Linked DNA regions of Homo sapiens: all the other regions are reported to be linked to region 1. The links are microRNA targets in miRTarBase. Many come from high-throughput screens and were not tested one by one. Region 1 holds a microRNA gene; each other region holds the end of a gene's coding sequence.

Evidence for each region. Region 1 holds the annotated microRNA hsa-miR-6873-3p (UUCUCUCUGUCUUUCUCUCUCAG, at 3,276-3,298, opposite strand). A microRNA usually pairs through its seed, bases 2 to 8, with sites in the 3' UTR of a target mRNA and lowers its output. Matches are read on the target gene's strand: a 7mer-m8 pairs with bases 2 to 8, a 7mer-A1 pairs with bases 2 to 7 and ends in A, and an 8mer does both.
Region 2: the mRNA of DHRS3 is a reported target of hsa-miR-6873-3p. Seed matches in the 3' UTR shown: 7mer-m8 at 2,481-2,487.
Region 3: miRTarBase lists WDR59 as a target of hsa-miR-6873-3p. Seed matches in the 3' UTR shown: 8mer at 2,839-2,846, 7mer-m8 at 1,819-1,825, 7mer-m8 at 1,817-1,823, 7mer-m8 at 1,815-1,821 and 8mer at 992-999.
Region 4: miRTarBase lists INMT as a target of hsa-miR-6873-3p. Seed matches in the 3' UTR shown: 7mer-m8 at 2,425-2,431, 7mer-m8 at 2,427-2,433, 7mer-m8 at 2,429-2,435, 7mer-m8 at 2,431-2,437, 7mer-m8 at 2,504-2,510 and 8mer at 2,506-2,513.

The regions. Positions count from the first base shown.
Region 1 is chr6:33,283,952-33,288,070 of GRCh38, forward strand. It overlaps MIR6873 (microRNA 6873), which reads right to left and starts at 3,338; the gene lies at 3,276-3,338. It overlaps WDR46 (WD repeat domain 46), which reads right to left. Exons shown (of 15, transcript NM_005452.6): 6 at 4,014-4,075; 7 at 3,663-3,767; 8 at 3,404-3,554; 9 at 3,140-3,275; 10 at 2,844-2,943. RefSeq lists enhancers at 3,281-3,814, 3,815-4,119.
Region 2 is chr1:12,565,442-12,569,560 of GRCh38, forward strand. DHRS3 (dehydrogenase/reductase 3) reads right to left here. Exons shown (of 6, transcript NM_004753.7): 6 at 2,469-2,983. The coding sequence ends at 2,899. Among named protein-coding and RNA genes, the nearest start is that of MIR6730, 12 kb to the right of the region's middle.
Region 3 is chr16:74,870,742-74,874,860 of GRCh38, forward strand. It overlaps WDR59 (WD repeat domain 59), which reads right to left. Exons shown (of 26, transcript NM_030581.4): 26 at 621-3,703. The coding sequence ends at 3,468. Among named protein-coding and RNA genes, the nearest start is that of FA2H, 98 kb to the left of the region's middle. RefSeq lists enhancers at 730-1,278, 3,484-4,119.
Region 4 is chr7:30,754,932-30,759,050 of GRCh38, forward strand. It overlaps INMT (indolethylamine N-methyltransferase), which reads left to right. Exons shown (of 3, transcript NM_006774.5): 3 at 491-2,671. The coding sequence ends at 920. All of the region lies in intron 2 of INMT-MINDY4 (INMT-MINDY4 readthrough (NMD candidate)), which reads left to right. Among named protein-coding and RNA genes, the nearest start is that of INMT-MINDY4, 4.9 kb to the left of the region's middle.

The sequences.
Region 1 (4,119 bases):
CCATAGCCATGGCCGGGTGCAGTGGCTCACGCCTGTAATCCCAACACTTGCACTTTGGGAGGCCGAAGCAGGTGGATCACGATGTCAGGAGTTCAAGATCAGCCTGGCCAAGATGGTGAAACCCCATCTCTACTAAACATTAAAAAATTAACTGGGCGTGGTTCGTGGGCGCCTGTAATCCCAGCTACTCAGGAGGCTGAGGCAGGAGAATCGCTTGAACCCCGGGGGGCAGAGGTTGTGGTGAGCTGAGATTGTGCCACTGCACTCCAGCCTGGGTGACAGATCAAGACTCTGTCTCAAAAAAAAAAAAAAAATAGCCACAAGTTTTTATACCTAAAGGATAACGGGAGCACCACACCAGGGCAGGCTCAACGATTCATCCTTTTGTCTCCAGAACCTCAGCGCAGAGCCCTGCCCACAGCAGGTGCCCAGTGAATACCTGATGACAAAAGGAATCAGAGGAAAATACAAATCAGACAGAAAAGCTGTGGAAAATGCAGATACTCCCTCAGGAACAGCAGAAATCCAAAGCAGACACCACCTCCACCCCTCACATCAGCCAGACCTGGAGAGAACGATCATCTTGAATGACAATGATGAACACAGCGCTCCCTATTTTGCTAAGCGCTGTGCTAAACTATATGCCTTAACTCATCTTAATGTCTACAACAGCTTATATGAGGGCTTTAAACCAAGGCTTGGTAAACTACTGCCCATGGGCCAAACCTGGCCCATCATCTAGTTCTGTATAGCCCACAAGCCAAGAATGGTTTTTACATTTTTAAGTGGTTGAAAAAAAATCAAAAGAATATTTTGAGACTGTGAAAACCGTATGAAATTCAAATTCCAATATCCAACAAATAAAGTTTTATTGGAACGGGGCCACACTATTTACTTAATACTGTGGCTGCTTTTGCTCTACAACACACAGCCGAGTGGTCACGACAGCGACTACAGCATCCTGATTTGCACTGCTGCTTTGTACACTACAAGTCACAGTGACACAGTCGTAAGTGCTTCACAGCATTTCAAGCACCTCACATATCACCTATCATTACCTGTGTGAAAAGATGTTTTCAAAGATGAAATACTTGCAATCTCTACAGATCAGCATGAACATGAATATCTACAGTCAAATTTGACCATCTGGAACACTAACTTTGTACATCAATTAGGCAAAATGTTAACCTCAAAAAGAGAAATTCAGTTCTTCCCATTAGTAGATCTGTATTACACAAATATATTTGATTATTATTATTTTTTTTTTCTGAGACCGGGTCTCACTCTGTTGCCCATGCTAGAGTGCAGTGGCATGATCACAGCTCACTGCAGCCTTAACCTCCTGGGCTGAGGTGGGAGGATCACCTCAGCCTCCTGAGTAGCTGGGACTACAGGCATGCACCACCACACCCGGCTAATTTTTCTATCTTCTGTAGAGACAGAGTTTTGCCATGTCATGGGTGACATGGCTTGTTTCGAACTTCTGGGCTCAAGTGATCTGCCCACCTCAGCCTACCAAACTGTTAAGATTACAGGCATGAGCCACTGTGTCCAGTCTCATATTATGTTTTGTTTGTTTGTTTGTTTTTGAGACGGAGTTTTGCTCTTGTTGCCCAGGTTGGAGTGCAATGGCACAGTCTTGGCTCACTGCAACCCCTGCCTCCCAGGTTCAAGCAATTCTCCTGCCTCAGCCTCCCAAGTTGCCGGAATTACAGGCCCCCGCCACGACACCCGGCTAATTTTGTGAATTTTTAGTAGAGACAGAGTTTCGCCATGTTGGCCAGGCTGGTCTCAAACTCCTGACCTCAGGCGATCCACCCGCCTTGGCCTCCAAAGTGCTGGGATTACAGGCGTGAGCCACCGCACCTGGCCATATTACGTTTAATTTTATAACCTAAAAATGTGTGGGCCAGGCGCAGTGGCTCACGCCTGTAATCCCAACACTTTGGGAGGCCGAGGCGGGCAGATCATCTGAGGTCAGGAGTTCAAGACCAGCCTGGCCAACACAGTAAAACCCCGTCTCTACAAAAAAATACAAAATTAGCTGGGCATGATGGCAGGTGCCTGTAATCCCAGCTACTTGGGAGACTGAGGCAGGAGAATCGCTTGAATCTGGGAGGCGGAGGTTGCAGTGAGCCGAGATCACGCCACTGCACTCCAACCTGGGAGACAGAGCAAGACTACGTCTCTCTCAAAAGATTTAAAAAAAAAAAGGTCAGGCGCAGTGGCTCACGCCTATAATCCCAGCACTTTGGGAGGCTGAGGCGGGCAGATCACTTGAGGTCAGGAATTCGAGACCAGCCTGAACAACATGCTGAAACCCTGTCTCTACTAAAAATACAAAAATTAGCCAGGTGTTGTAGCAGGCGCCTGTAGTCCCAGATACTCGAGAGGCCAAGGCAGGAGAATCACTTGAACCTGAGAGGTGGAGGTTGCAGTGAGCTGAGATTGCGCCATTGCACTCCAGCCTGGGTGTCAGAGCGAGACTCCATCTCAAAAAAAAAAGTTGTGATAATTTGTTTTCTCTTGGTATTTAAATGCCTACATGGTACCCTTTGATTTTACCTCTTATCAGCAAATCATAAAATATTTACTATCTGACTCTTTACAGAAAAAGTTTGTGGACCCTTGAAATGGACACTCATATTTCCATTTTCGGGGTCAGGAAACTGTGGCACACAGAGGTTATGAAATATGCCTATACTTGCAAGGCCCATCCGTGGTAACACTGCGATTTAAACCTGGGCATCCTGGCTTTAGACTCTGTGCTCCTAAAGCACACTGCCTTCCACACCTTTCTGCCCACCTATGACTCCTAACACCTCACCCCACCAGTGACTTACGTGCCTGTAGAATCTACTGCCACAGCCCGGACCCCACCACGATGACAGAGAATCTTTGCCAGTGGCTCCTTCATAGCTGGACTCCATAAAGACACAGTACCTGGAAGAGAAGAAGAACCAAAGTTGCTAATACACACCTAAGCCTGAGGTTACTAAACATGGGAAAGATGGGAACTCAAGACCAAGAGATAACAAAAAAGGGAAATAAAAGGGTAACTTTAAGGGACTCATGAAGTACAAATATAGAAGAAAAGCAAGTCAGGATGGTCAGAGTCAAAACTAAGCCAGGTACTGACCATTGCTGTGTCCGAGATGGATGACGGCATTGTAAGGGTTCTGACTCATAACATCGAGCCGCCCAGCTCGAGCATTCAGAGCTGCCACAATCTTCCCCACTGACACATCCAGGTAGGTTAGAAACCCTGTTTCTGACTGAGAGAGAAAGACAGAGAGAATGACCCAGTCCTGATTGCCCTCTGTATTCCCTCTGCTGGGGTCCTAAAGGAGAGGTGGTCATCCCAAGGGCTTCCAACCAGTTCCTGAGCTCCATGGCCACTCACAGCTGTAGCCAGGAGGAAGTGGAAGGGCAGGAACTCAAGCCGTGTTACTCGGTCACAGCGGCGGATACAGTGGAGCTCAATGCCCTGATTGTCATAGATGTGGAGCCAGCGGTTCTGAGCAACAGCAAGCAGTGCCTCAGAATGGAGAAACCTGGGGGAGAGGAAGAGTGGTTCAATTGGGAAATGAGGTCACAGGCTATCATTCAATCAGGAATGGACTATCTCACCCCAACTGACCGCTGACAGTGAGGCCACTGACCGGATGTCCCGCACCGCCTCCATGACGTTGATCTCGCACATAAGCTTCTTTGTTACCCAATCAAGGGCAGCCACATGACCTCGGCGCCCTCCAAAAGCCAGGTGTCTGTTGGAGGTGAGGGGCAGGCAGGGTGTTAAGGCAGGGGACCACCGACTCAGACAACTTGAGGTCTGCCCCACGCCAGCCCCATCTCTCCAGGCGGGCAGACACATGTTGCTGTAGGTGCTTACCCTCACACCCAAGCAAATCGAAGGACCCTCCCCTCATCAGCAACCCAAACATACACTGGGAATGGCTGAAGTGGTTAAGGAAACACATCTTAGTTCAAGAGTCACTAGAATTCAACCTTACCTTCCAGTTCGAGAGTAGTTTAGTCTGTAGGGTCCAAACTGCCGCAGATTCAAGTCAAAGTGCTGGGAAAGAGAAGAGTGAAAAAAAAGAGTGCCCTGCAGTAACG
Region 2 (4,119 bases), not on the chromosome of region 1:
CAGTGCTTTTTCTTTTGGTTCCTCTGGGAAAAGATCCAGAAAAAGACTGAAAGCTCCTGGCTGAGAGGGAGGGGGTGGGGTGGGACCAGGCCCTGCCCTTCTGAGCCCCTGGGGCTCTGGGACGCCAGGGTCCCACTCTGCTAACACAGCGATTGGTTCTCAATGCAACTGGGGAGGGCTGGCGGGGCTTGCAACTCCCAGAGTCCAATCAGACTTTAGGGATCCTTGTTGCACTCCTTTGGGAAGTCAAGGCAGAAGGGTTGCTTAAGCCAGGAATTCCAGACTAGCCTGGGCAACATAGCGAGACCCTATCTTTACAAAAAAATGATGAAGTGAGCCAGGCGTGGTGGCACATGCCTGTAATCTCAGCTACTCGAGAGGCTGAGGTGGGAGGATTGCTTGAGCCTGGGAGGTGGAGGCTGCAGTGGCCATGATCGGGCCACTGCACTCCAGCCTGGGCAACAGAGTGAGGACCTAAATAAGTTTAGCGTGAGATGAACACTGACAGTTGCCTCTTTAGGGCTCTGCTTAGCACCTCCTGTGCCCTCCCAAAAGTCACTGTGTCCTTGGGCTTGCAGTTGGAAGCCATACAGCTGCTTCCCTCTGTCCTCAACCTATATTTTAATTTTTGCTCATGATGTCTTCTTCCCTGGCATGGCAGAGCCTGGTTCAGAACTAACGACTACTCCTCCACGCGGGATTGTATTTCCTGCTATGTTAATAGCGGCTCCACCACGTGCCCTGTTCCAGCTAATGAAATGTGAGCAGAAGTGACAGTGTTGTTTCCAGGTGGAAACTTCAAGAGCCAGTGCACAGTTCACCAGGTATGTCTACCCTGTGCCATAAGACATCCTCCCTGAGGCCCCCTGGTCAGCCTGAGTTTCAGAGCGAAGATGACACGGAGCACACCTGTAGCCATTCTTGAAGGACTAGTAGCAGTAATAAGGCAGAAACCTTCATTGTTGGAAGCCACTGAGATTTGGGCGTCACATTCTGGCTGCGCCACATCAAGGCTGTTGGAAGTCTCCAGAGCGGTCTCGGAGTTGTGTTTTTTTGGTCTTCAGCTGCTGCCAAGTGGCATGGATAATGAAGAGTTAAAATGTTATGCCTGGGGACTGACCTCCATTCTAGGTACTCATTCAAGAGTGGCTACAGGCCGGGCGTGGTAGCTCATTCCAGTAATCCCAGCACTTTGGGAGGCTGAGGGAGGAGGATTGCTTGAGCCTAGGGGTTCAAGACCAGCCTGGACAACATAGCAAGACCTCTGTCTTTACGAAAAATAAAAAGAAAACAGTTGGGCGTGGTGGCATGCACCTGTAGTCCCAGCAACTCCGGAGGCTGAGGTGGAGGATTGTTTGAGCCCAGGAGGTTGAGGCTGCAGTGAGCCGTGATTGTGCCATTCCACTCCACACTCCAGCCTGGGTGACAGAGCAAGTTCCCATGTTTAAAAAAAAAAAAAAGAGAAGAAGAAAAAAAGCATGGCTATAATCGTGACTTGGCATTTCTGCACATAGACCAGACTGATGATCACCTGAGCTATGTCTAATATTCTCTAAGCTGGGAGGTTTCAGCCTGAGGTTTGCATGTAGGTTAAGACTTTATGTAACTCTTGGGGAAGCTTCTGGGTTGGGTCAGAGGGCTGTGACCTCCTTCACCTCCCGGGGACCTTGCCTGCTCCCCTCCTGCCACCCTGGCACTCATCTGCAAGAGCTGTGTGGAATGGAGTTTACTTGCTATGAAATGACATGGCCCACTTTCTTCCCCACTGCCCAAGGTGAGGTTTATTAAGCTTGTGGCAGCAGGGAGCGTGCACCCTGGAGGAAGCAGGGGGCATCTCTACTAGGTCATTTTGGCCGTGACTTTGCCCCATTGATGGAACCAGGGCCGATCTCTTCTGCCACTCCAGACCTCCCCCTGCCCCTGTGATCAAATGGGACTCGGTCTGTAGCACCCCTCGGCACTGGCCTTATGGTGAGGAGTTGTCACTGTGTTTCCGGTGACTTGTGATCCTTTCCTACCCAGATTATTGGCTTCTTGTACTAGTGGTTCTTCTCAGCAACGTTCCCCTCTCTGCACCACACACACCCTAGGTAGACAGTGGGTGCTCCATAAACACTGGTTTTGCTCTCCTGAGTTGGTGGCCTGGAGGCTGGTGGTGCCATGGCAGGACAGAGGGCATCTCTAGCTGTGGCCAGCTGTTTGCAGACTGTTTCATAAAGGTCACACCAAGGAGACAAAGCGGCTTCAACCCATGGCTGCTGGGAGGGGCCTGGTGGAGCTGGCGAGGAACCCAGCACCCCTCTCTGCCCCTAGGCCTGGGCTCCACTTTCTCTCCTGATTTCGGCCCCCTTCTCTCCACCCTTGGCAGTTGGGGACCTTGAACTGACCAGTTCTCTCTCAAAGGATGGAGTTTTATGGTTGGGACTGGCTCCCTCCCAACTGCCCACGGAAGATTTGAACAAAGGAAATCACAAAAGCCATCTCTCTTTATTTTTCATTCCTGCCGTTCAACCAGTTTGTGCAAGCTGAGGATGAGTGGGTTTTGGAACGGGAGGCAGAGCATCTGGGGACAGACCCTCCTGGAAATGGTCTATGCACACTGCTGAGGCTGGTTAGACTTGAGAAGCAATTGACAATAAACTCTACAGAACTGGAAATGTTCAAAAGTGTCAAGGTGGCTTCTGGCTGTTTTCCTGCCTCCCTGTGGGGGTCAGTTATACCCATCAGTCCTGTGCAAAGGTCCTGGGACTGGCCCAGGGGCAGCCGGATTCTTCGCTGGGGACAGGAGCTGTCCTGCTCACCCAGCAGAAGCATGCCAATGGACAGGTGCTCGGGTGTGTGCCCAGGTGCTGTGGCCCCCAAACTCCGTGGCTCCTCAAGCATGTCTTCATCCTGTCTCTATGTCCGCCCTTTGAAAGTGTTCATGCAGGTGTAGGTTCCTGAGAATTTGTGGATCTCCTCGAGTGCAGCCTGTGGAAGTATGCTGGAGTAGGAGGAAGAAAAGAAGATAGCGATGGTTAGTGGGGCAGGATCCAGGGGCTGGGTCGCTGGTGGCCATGTGAGACGGGGCAGCAGAGGGCTGGTTCCTGAAAGTGCTCCCCACACCTCCAAGCCACACACCAGTTTCTCCCCAAACCCCCACCCTCCCCAGGGGAAGAGCTTTCAAATAAGTGGATAAGCAGCTGTTAAAAGGGCAGGGGGAGGCTGGGCGCGGTGGCTCATGTCTATAATCCAAGTACTTTGGGAGGCCGAGATGGGCGGATCGCTTGAGCCCAGGAATTCAAGACCAGCCTGGGCAATATGGTGAAACCCTGTCTCTACAAAAATATACAAAAATTAGCTGGGCATGGTGGCATGTGCCTATAGTCCTAGCTACTGGGGAGGCTGAGGTGGGAGGATGGCTTGAACCCAAGAGGTGGAGGTTGAAGTGAGCTGAGATTGTACCGCTGCATTCCAGCCTGGGTGGCAGAGCCAGACCCTGTCTCAAAAATTCTTTTCAGACTGGGCGTGGTGGCTCATGCCTGTAATCCCAGCACTTTGGGAGGCCAAGGTGGGTGGATCACCTCAGGAGTTCGAGAACAGCCTAGCCAACATGGCAAAACCCTGTCTTTACTAAAAATACAAAAATTAGCTGGGCGTGGTGGTGGGCACCTGTAATCCCAGCTACTCGGGAGACTGAGGCAGGAGAATTGCTTGACCTGGGAGGCGGAGGTTTCGGTGGGCCGAGATCGCGCCGTTGCACTCCAGCCTGGGCGACAAGAGTAAAACTCTGTCCCCTCTCTCTCTCTCTCACACACACACACACACACACACACACACACTCTTTTTAAAATATATATTTTAAAAAGGCAGAGAGTGAGTGAGTGGTCAGAGCAAACTTTTTTTTTAATTTAAAATTTTTATCTTTTTCCTAGATCCTGAAACAGAGCTCATTTTTTTATTTTTAATTTTTGTGGGTACATAGTAGGTATATATATTTATGGGGTACATGAAATACTTTGATACAGGCATGCAAATGTATAATAATCACATCAGCATAAATGGGGTATCCATCACCTCAAGCATTTATCTGTTGTGTTACAAACAATCCAACTATACTCTTTTAGTTTTTTTATTTAT
Region 3 (4,119 bases), not on the chromosome of region 1:
AGCCTGGGTGACAGAGCAAGACTTTGTCTCAAAAAAAAAAAATTGTTAAAGCAACATCAATTCTATCTATGTGACATTACCAAAGAAAGCATTATACCATTTGTGTCTTGGGGGGGTTAGGGACAGGGACAAATAGTCAACCTGGTGGTTGCCCTGAGGCTCGCCCCTTCCCCCATCCTTTCCAGTATCCTGCCTGAGCAACCTTTTGTTTCTGGTGCACAAATACGACTGCTGGGCCTGTTTTCTTGCAAAGGTACTTTCAAACATAGCTTGTATTGCCTTTATTCATTTTTTTTTTTTGAGACGGAGTTTTGCTTTGTCACCCAGGCTGCAGTGCAGTGGCACAATCTCGGCTCACTGCAACCTCCGCCTCCCGGGTTCAAGCGATTCTCCTGCCTCAGCCTCCTGAGTAGCTGGGATTACAGGCAACCGCCACCACACCCGGAAAATTTTTGCATTTTTCGTAAAGACAGGGTTTCGCCATGTTGGCCAGGCTGGTCTTGAACTCCTGACCTCAGGTGATCCACCCACCTCGGCCTCCCAAAGTGCTGGCATTACAGGCGTGAGCCACCCCACTTGGCCTTGTATTGCTCTTAAAAACAAATAAACAAACAAAAGACTCAGGTGCTTGTAATCATCTATTCTGCGGCTGAGAGAATATCGGCCATGGCCCGCAACCAGACAACCAACCTGTTTCCAAACATGAATATTTTAAAATATTAGACTTTTGTTCTGGTAACTTGGAAATTCAAAAGGAATTTCCGTATTGAAGGATGACATTATGTAATATTTTAAACTCGAAATTTCTTCACACCATTAAGGTTTTTCAATTTTGAAAGTCAATGTTCCTCCAACAATAAAACAAGAAAAACATCTCATTCTTGATGGGGACAGATAGGGACAGGTTTTTACACTAACTTGAGCAGTGGGGAACAGGAAAAGATTGCTCTCTGCAAATGGTGTGATTTCACTGAGGAACACAACAGATCCTTTCTCTCTGTGTAAATCAGCCAACCTATTCTGTGATCACCATTACAACAGAATTTGTGTATGCAAATTCCCGGCTGGGCCTTCTCCTGTCATCCTCCCAGCGGCTCCCCCGCCCTGCTCACGCTACTGAGACACTGGCACCTTACCTCAGACCAGAGCCCAGCACTAAACCTCTGGTTCCACTGCACAGGATCTCAGTTCTTTCTTACATCCTGAAGTTTTGTGCCCAGTAACACAGGGGACGAGGTATAAGCTTCATCCAAAACAGTGTTGTGAAAATGTTTTGACTACAACTTTCAGTAAGAAATGAATTTACGCTATGATCCGGTATACACCTGTGCACACATGTGCTGCACACACGTAAACAAGTTACACAAAACATTTTCCTTAGCTATGTATGGTACATTGTGATCATTTTTCTCTTACACCATTTCATTTTTTTAAATGCTGGTTTTCCGCACTAGATCAATGTCACAATCCACTAATGGGTCCTGACCTGGAGTTTGAAACACATGAATATGCAATGCTCTCCCATTATGAGACATGTCCTAGTCCCTAAGCTAATCTACTTGGAACTGTAAAATTCTAAGAAACAGAAATAGATATTTCAGTAGAAATAATAAAAAAGATTTCTTTTCACTGGCACATACAAAATGTGAAGTTGAAAATCATTCTGAAATTAGCCAGGCATGGTGGTGCACACCTGTAGTCCCAGCTACTCGGGAGGCTGAGGTGGGAGGATCACTTGAGCTCAGGTGATAGAGGCTACAGTGAGCTATGATTGCATCACCACTCTCCAGTCTGGGTGACAGAGTGAGACCCTGTCTCTCTCTCTAAAAAAAAAAAAAAAAAATTTAACTTTAAAAAAGAAAATCATTCTGAAGAATTGGTGGACACAGATGTTATAACTACTCAGAACACAGGCAAACACAGGCAGTTTGCGAGGGAGCCTAAAGGAAGAGTGAGGGCACTCACTGGAACCCAGCCCATCTGAACAGAGGCAAGGAAGACTTTGGTTTATTGACAGGGTCTCACTCTGTTGCCCAGGCTGGAGTGCAGCGGTGCAATCAAGGCTCACTGCAGCCTCAACCTCCTGGACTCAAGTGATCCTCCCACCTCGGCCCCTCAAGTAGCTGGGACCACAGGCATGTGCCACCACACCCGGCTATTTTTTTAATTTTTTTTTTCTTTTTTTGAGACAGAGTCTCACTCTTGTCACCCAGGCTGGAGTGCAATGGCATAATCTCAGCTCGCTGCAACCTCTGCTTCCCAAGTTCAAGCGATTCTCCTGTCTCAGCCTCCCCAGTACCTGGGATTACAGGCGCCCGCCACCATGCCCGGCTAATTTTTCTATTTTTAGTAGAGATGGGGTTTCACCATGTTGGCCAGGCTAGTCTCGAACTCCTGACCTCAGGTAATCCTCCCACCTCAGCCTCCCAAAGTGCTGGGATTACAGGCATGAGCCACCGTGCCCGGCCTATTTTTTAAATTTTTTGCAGAGATGGGATCTCCTTATGTTGCCCAGGCTGGTCTCGAACTCCTGAGCTCAGGTGATCCCCTCACTTTTGCCTTCTAAAGTGTGGGATTACAGGCATGAGCCATGGGGCCTGGCCAGGGAGACTTTTCTATCCATGCTGCACGGCAATCTTGTCCTCCTTTTGCTAGAAGAAATAAGACTCTTGGGGCTAGGAAGAACCTTAAATGTCAAATTCCATTTTCTCTTGTCAGATGACAAAAGTAAATCAGCATTTCCTTTAAAAATCGGAGCACTGACTTTGGTCCTATTCAAAATAGCTACCTTCAATTAGAATTAGGGTAAAAAATGATTCACCATAATGTTGTTTAACTTTCTCTCTTTTTTTTTTTTTTCAAATTACTAGAATTTTATTAGCCAAGGGATAGCAGCTGGAGGAGAAATAACAAAAAAATACATCTTAAGAATCCTTAAGTACAGTGCATATTTACAATTTAAGTGTCATATTTTAGAAGGCCACTGTCCATCAGCTCAGTAAATGTACCAGCTTCTAAAGCCATGATGCCATAGGTCCATTTGTTGATGAAATTCCTACCCACTGTCCTCGGGCATCTGACTCTGGTCTCTGCACTGGCATCAAGAGAACGCTGCTCGGTGGTTTAAGGCTAACACCTTACAGGGTAACACTGTAACACTGGCCCTGGAGCCAGGTGCTTTTCTCCATGAAAACTTCCACCTTGGTAGCTCAGCCGACATAGACAACACACAAAGCGCAGCTCTGCACTTCTGTCCTTATCTTCACACAGTGACATCCACACCAGGTGGCCAAACAGAAGAGAAGGCAGAGGCCCACCAAGAGCTGATGCTGCGCAGTCCTTGGGGGATCATCCTCCGGTCTCACTGGGGACGAACCCAGGTTCTGGAGCCTCTCCCCTGACAGACAGCTTGTCACCGGCACTTATGGGTCCTCTGGGATTTCAGACAATACCCAACTTCTGTAGGTTCAGAAAGTGCTTTCAAGCAGGCAGTGGCACCCACACCCGGTGGGACACACCTCCTGGGTCCGAAACCACTCCATCATGTGGCTGGTGTGGCCACCGTGCCCACAGGTCAGGCAGAAATTGGACGATCCCCGCACAGCCACGTGACAGATGGCACACTGGAACGTGAAGCCTTTGCAGATGGCACACTGCGTGCCACGGACCTCACTCCGGCAGTGGCTGCAGTACACGCCGAACTCTGGAAATGGGCAGGGACGGGCAAAACAAGAGGCAGCATGAGTTTAGTTCTGAAAAAGGAAACTGGGGCTTGCCAGGAAGAAGGAAGTCTTCCTCTCAAGACTCTAGCAGATTCTCTTAGACCAGTGGTTTTCATTTTCTGTTTTTTTTATTTTTATTTTTTCTTTTTGAGACAGAGTTTCACTCTTGTCACCCAGGCTCGAGTGCAATGGTGCAATCTTGGCTCACTGCAACCTTCACAGCCCGGATTCAAGTGTCCTGCCTCAGCCTCCCGAGTAGCTGGAATTACAGGCACCTGCCACCACGCCCAGCTAAGTTTGTATTTTTAGTAGAGACGGGGTTTCGCCATGTTGGCCAGGCTGGTCTCGAACTCCTGACCTCAGGTGATCCACCTGCCTTGGCCTCCCAAAGTGCTGG
Region 4 (4,119 bases), not on the chromosome of region 1:
ACTTATGTATATCTAAACAATCTATAATTTAGTTTTAGTCGCCTTTGAGCTTTATAGCAGAGTAATTTGCTCTGTGTCATTTGCGATTTGCTTTTCATCACTCAAAATTATATTTTTAAGATAGCTATATTCATACATTATCTGTAGTAAATTCATTAATTCATTCATCCATCCATCCAATAATGTTTGTTAACTGCCCTCTCTGTGCTTGGGGTGGCTTTGTCCATCCTGGGGATTAAGGGAAGGGGGCTCACATGGAATCAGAGAGAGAAAGTTTCCTATAATTGTTCTAGCCATTCTCCCTAACCATTTTTCTTTGGGAGAAACTGAGGCTCAGATTGAAGAAGAGCCTGCTGTCAGGTCACACAGGGACTCAGGGACAGCAATCCTTTGGGGATCCAGAGATCATCTCCATCTGCTGGTCACAGTGGACTGAGAGTTCCCTTCAGAACCTCAAAGGGCCTCCCCGACTCCCTCTCTCTCTCTGCAGCGGCCGATGGGAGGAGAAGGAGGAGAAGCTGCGGGCAGCGGTGAAGCGGGTGCTCAAGTGCGATGTCCACCTGGGCAACCCGCTGGCCCCGGCTGTGTTGCCTCTCGCCGACTGTGTGCTCACCCTGCTGGCCATGGAGTGTGCCTGCTGTAGCCTTGATGCCTACCGCGCTGCCCTGTGCAACCTTGCCTCACTGCTCAAGCCGGGTGGCCACCTGGTGACCACTGTCACGCTTCGGCTCCCGTCCTACATGGTGGGGAAGCGTGAATTTTCCTGCGTGGCCCTGGAGAAAGAGGAGGTGGAGCAGGCTGTCCTGGATGCTGGCTTTGACATTGAACAGCTCCTACACAGTCCCCAGAGCTACTCTGTCACCAATGCTGCCAACAATGGGGTCTGCTTCATTGTGGCTCGCAAGAAGCCTGGGCCCTGAGCCAGGAGGGCCAGCCAGAGGTCTGGTCAGGCTGTGAGGCCTTGGCCATCTGTATGCTAGAGAGGGGTGAGGAATGGATACTGTCTAACAGTCTCTGATTTCAACACTAACATTCCATCTTCTGAAATTCTGAGATTCTAACATCCTTGTTTTAGAATTCTAAGTTTCCAACATTCCTCATTCTAGGATCCTAGGAGTGGAATTTTCCATTTTCTAATATACTAAGCCTTACAGCTATCTTAGATGCGATCTGACTCCTGTGTGACTGTGGAGCACCCAGGGACGTGGTTTTAGAGTCTACCTAATATGTTAAGGACAAGGAAACCTCTGAGTCTACCTAATATGTTAAGGACAAGGAAACCTCTGGACAGTGGTATATTGGGGAATTTTTTTTTTTTTTTTGAGACGGAGTCTGGCTCTGTCACCCAGGCTAGAGTGCAATGGCACGATCTCGGCTCACTGCAAGCTCTGCGTCCTGGGTTGACGCCATTCTCCTGCCTCAGCCTCCCGAGTAGCTGGGACTACAGGAGCTCGCCACCACACCCAGCTAATTTTTTTTTTTTTTTTTTTATTTGAGACGGAGTTTCGCTCTGTCGCCCAGGCTGGAGTGCAGTGGCGCGATCTCGACTCACTGCAAGCTCCGCCTCCCGGGTTCACGCCATTCTCCTGCCTCAGCCTCCCGTGTAGCTGGGACTACAGGCACGCGCCACCATGCCCGGCTAATTTTTGTATTTTTAGTAGAGATGGGGTTTCACCGTGTTAGCCAGGATGGTCTCGATCTCCTGACCTGGTGATCCACCCACCTTGGCCTCCCAAAGTGCTGGGATTACAGGCGTGAGCCACCGCACCCAGCCAGGGGGAATGTTCTATAACCAGCTCTGTAAAGGAAAAGCACTGATGTGTGGTAGTCACCAATTTCTGTGGTGTAAATACTCCCACCATGGTTGATTTCAAGCCACCAGTGGTTTAATAACCAGCTCATAAATCTCCTAAATATTTTACAGTTGACTCTCATGAGCTGATTGGAGTCAGCTGGAACATACCACTGCCTCTAGACTAAGGTCAGCAGATTTAGCAAATACAGACTGCCCCAGTTCATTGAATTTTAGATAAATGAAATAAATCTATAAGGTTAAGTATGTCCCCAGAACTGCATGGAACATGCTTAATCTAAACAATGATTTGTTGTTCACCTGAAATTCAAATTTAGCTGGGTGTCCTGTATTTCATCTGGCAACCCTACTTCAGACCCAGGTGTAAGGTACATGGATGTGCTTTGGTCAAGGAATAGGCCAAGGCAGAGATCCATGCCTGCATGACTCAGTGGGTTTGGTGCACAGGCACACACCTCCACTTGTTATATAACCTGTTTGTGTAAGTTCATACTTGGTCTGAGCCACTGTTGTCTGTAAAAGGTAATTGTCCTGCTAATGCTGTACAGGGGCTCTTGGGGTTCGGCTCAGCTCAACATGGCTTGACATGGTGGGCACACTGGCGCCCAGTAAGAGAGAGAGAGAGCCAAAGCTGTCCGTTTTGCAGATGGACAGGAAGGAGCCAGGACACAGCTCAGCTTGCTCACGCCCAGAGAGAGAAAAAGTTAAGCTGCTGACCCTGAAGGCAAGGGAGAGCAGGCTGCACAGCTGTGTGTGGAAGCCACGGGCTCAAGCAGCCAAGGCAGGGCGGACAGTGTGAGAGAGCTAGTGTAAGCTGTTGATGAGAGCTGTTGCTGAATAAAACCATATTCACCTGCCTATGGGCCCTGAGTGTTCTTTCTGTCCATCTACCCACTCCCCTCAGACTTTAGCACGGGCTGGACCTGGACCCCAGGACCTGACACCAAGTGAGAAGAGGAGCAGCCCAGGGATCAAGGGTATTCCTCGTACATAAGGTGCCTTTGTGCAAATTAGGAAGAGGTGCTCCTGCAGATGGACACATTGCAGAAAGGAGTGTTCAGGGCTGATTAATTGAGAAAAGCTGTTCCATCTCCCTGTGGAAGCGCTATGAGAACAAGGTGCCTCTTCTGGGCAGACCAATTAGAGAAAGATGTCCCTTCCTTAAGGCTGATTGGGTCACACTACTGAGCACCTGTCAGCCTCCCTTTTTCCCTCAGCCCCAATCTGTGCCTTTGTGTGGGTACACCCTGGGCACAGCAACCTTGATAAGAGCCAGGAGACCTGGAATCTACTCTCAGCCCTGCCACTAATTGTTTCACTTCTCTGGGCCTCGTATTCCTATCCATGAGATTTAATCTAATAATCTACAGGAACATCCTAAGAACAGCAGGAAGTCATTGATGTGGAAGTGCTTTTTTTTTTGAGGCAGAGTCTCACTCCGTCGCCCAGGCTGGAGTGCAGTGGCGTTATCTCGGCTCACTGCAAGCTCCGCCTCCCGGGTTCAGGCCATTCTCCTGCCTCAACCTCCCCAGTAGCTGGGACTACAGGTGCCCGTCACCACGCCCGGCTAATTTTTTGTATTTTTAGTAGAGACGGGGTTTCACCGTGTTAGCCAGGATGGTGAAAGTGCTTTTTTTAAGGTGTAGTTTCACTCTTGTTGCCCAAGCTGGCGTGCAATGGTGCGATCTCAGCTCACTGCAAGCTCCGCCTCCTGGGTTCAAGTGATTCTCCTGCCTCAGCCTCCTGAGTAGCTGGGATTACAGGCATGCACCACCATGCCCAGCAAATTTTTGTGCTTTAAAAAGTAAAAGGTTTTGCACAAATTGACCCATTGATGTTATTCCCCCAGAGGGTCAGGGCTGAGATGGTCTTTCAAAATTACCCAGTCTAATCTCCGGGTTTTTTGTTTGTTTGTTTTGAGACAGAGTCACACTCTATCGCCCAGGCTGGAGTGCAGTGGTGCAATCTCAGCTCACTGCAACCTCAGCTTCCCACGTTCAAGCGATTATCTTGCTGCAGCCTCCCAAGTCGCTGGGACTACAGGCGTGCACCACCACACTCAGCTAATTTTTTTATTTTCAGTATAGACAGGGTTTCACCATGTTGGCCACACTGGTCTTGAACCTCTGACCTCAAGTGATCCTCCCTCTTCGGCCTCCCAAGGTGCTGGGATTACAGGCGTGAGCCACCATGCCCAGCCAAATCTCCATTTTTTTTGTAGTCAGGGACGATAGGTCCCAAGAGGGAAAGCGACTTGTCCAGAGACACACAGCAAGCTGGTGACAGAGCTGGAGTAAGAACTCAGG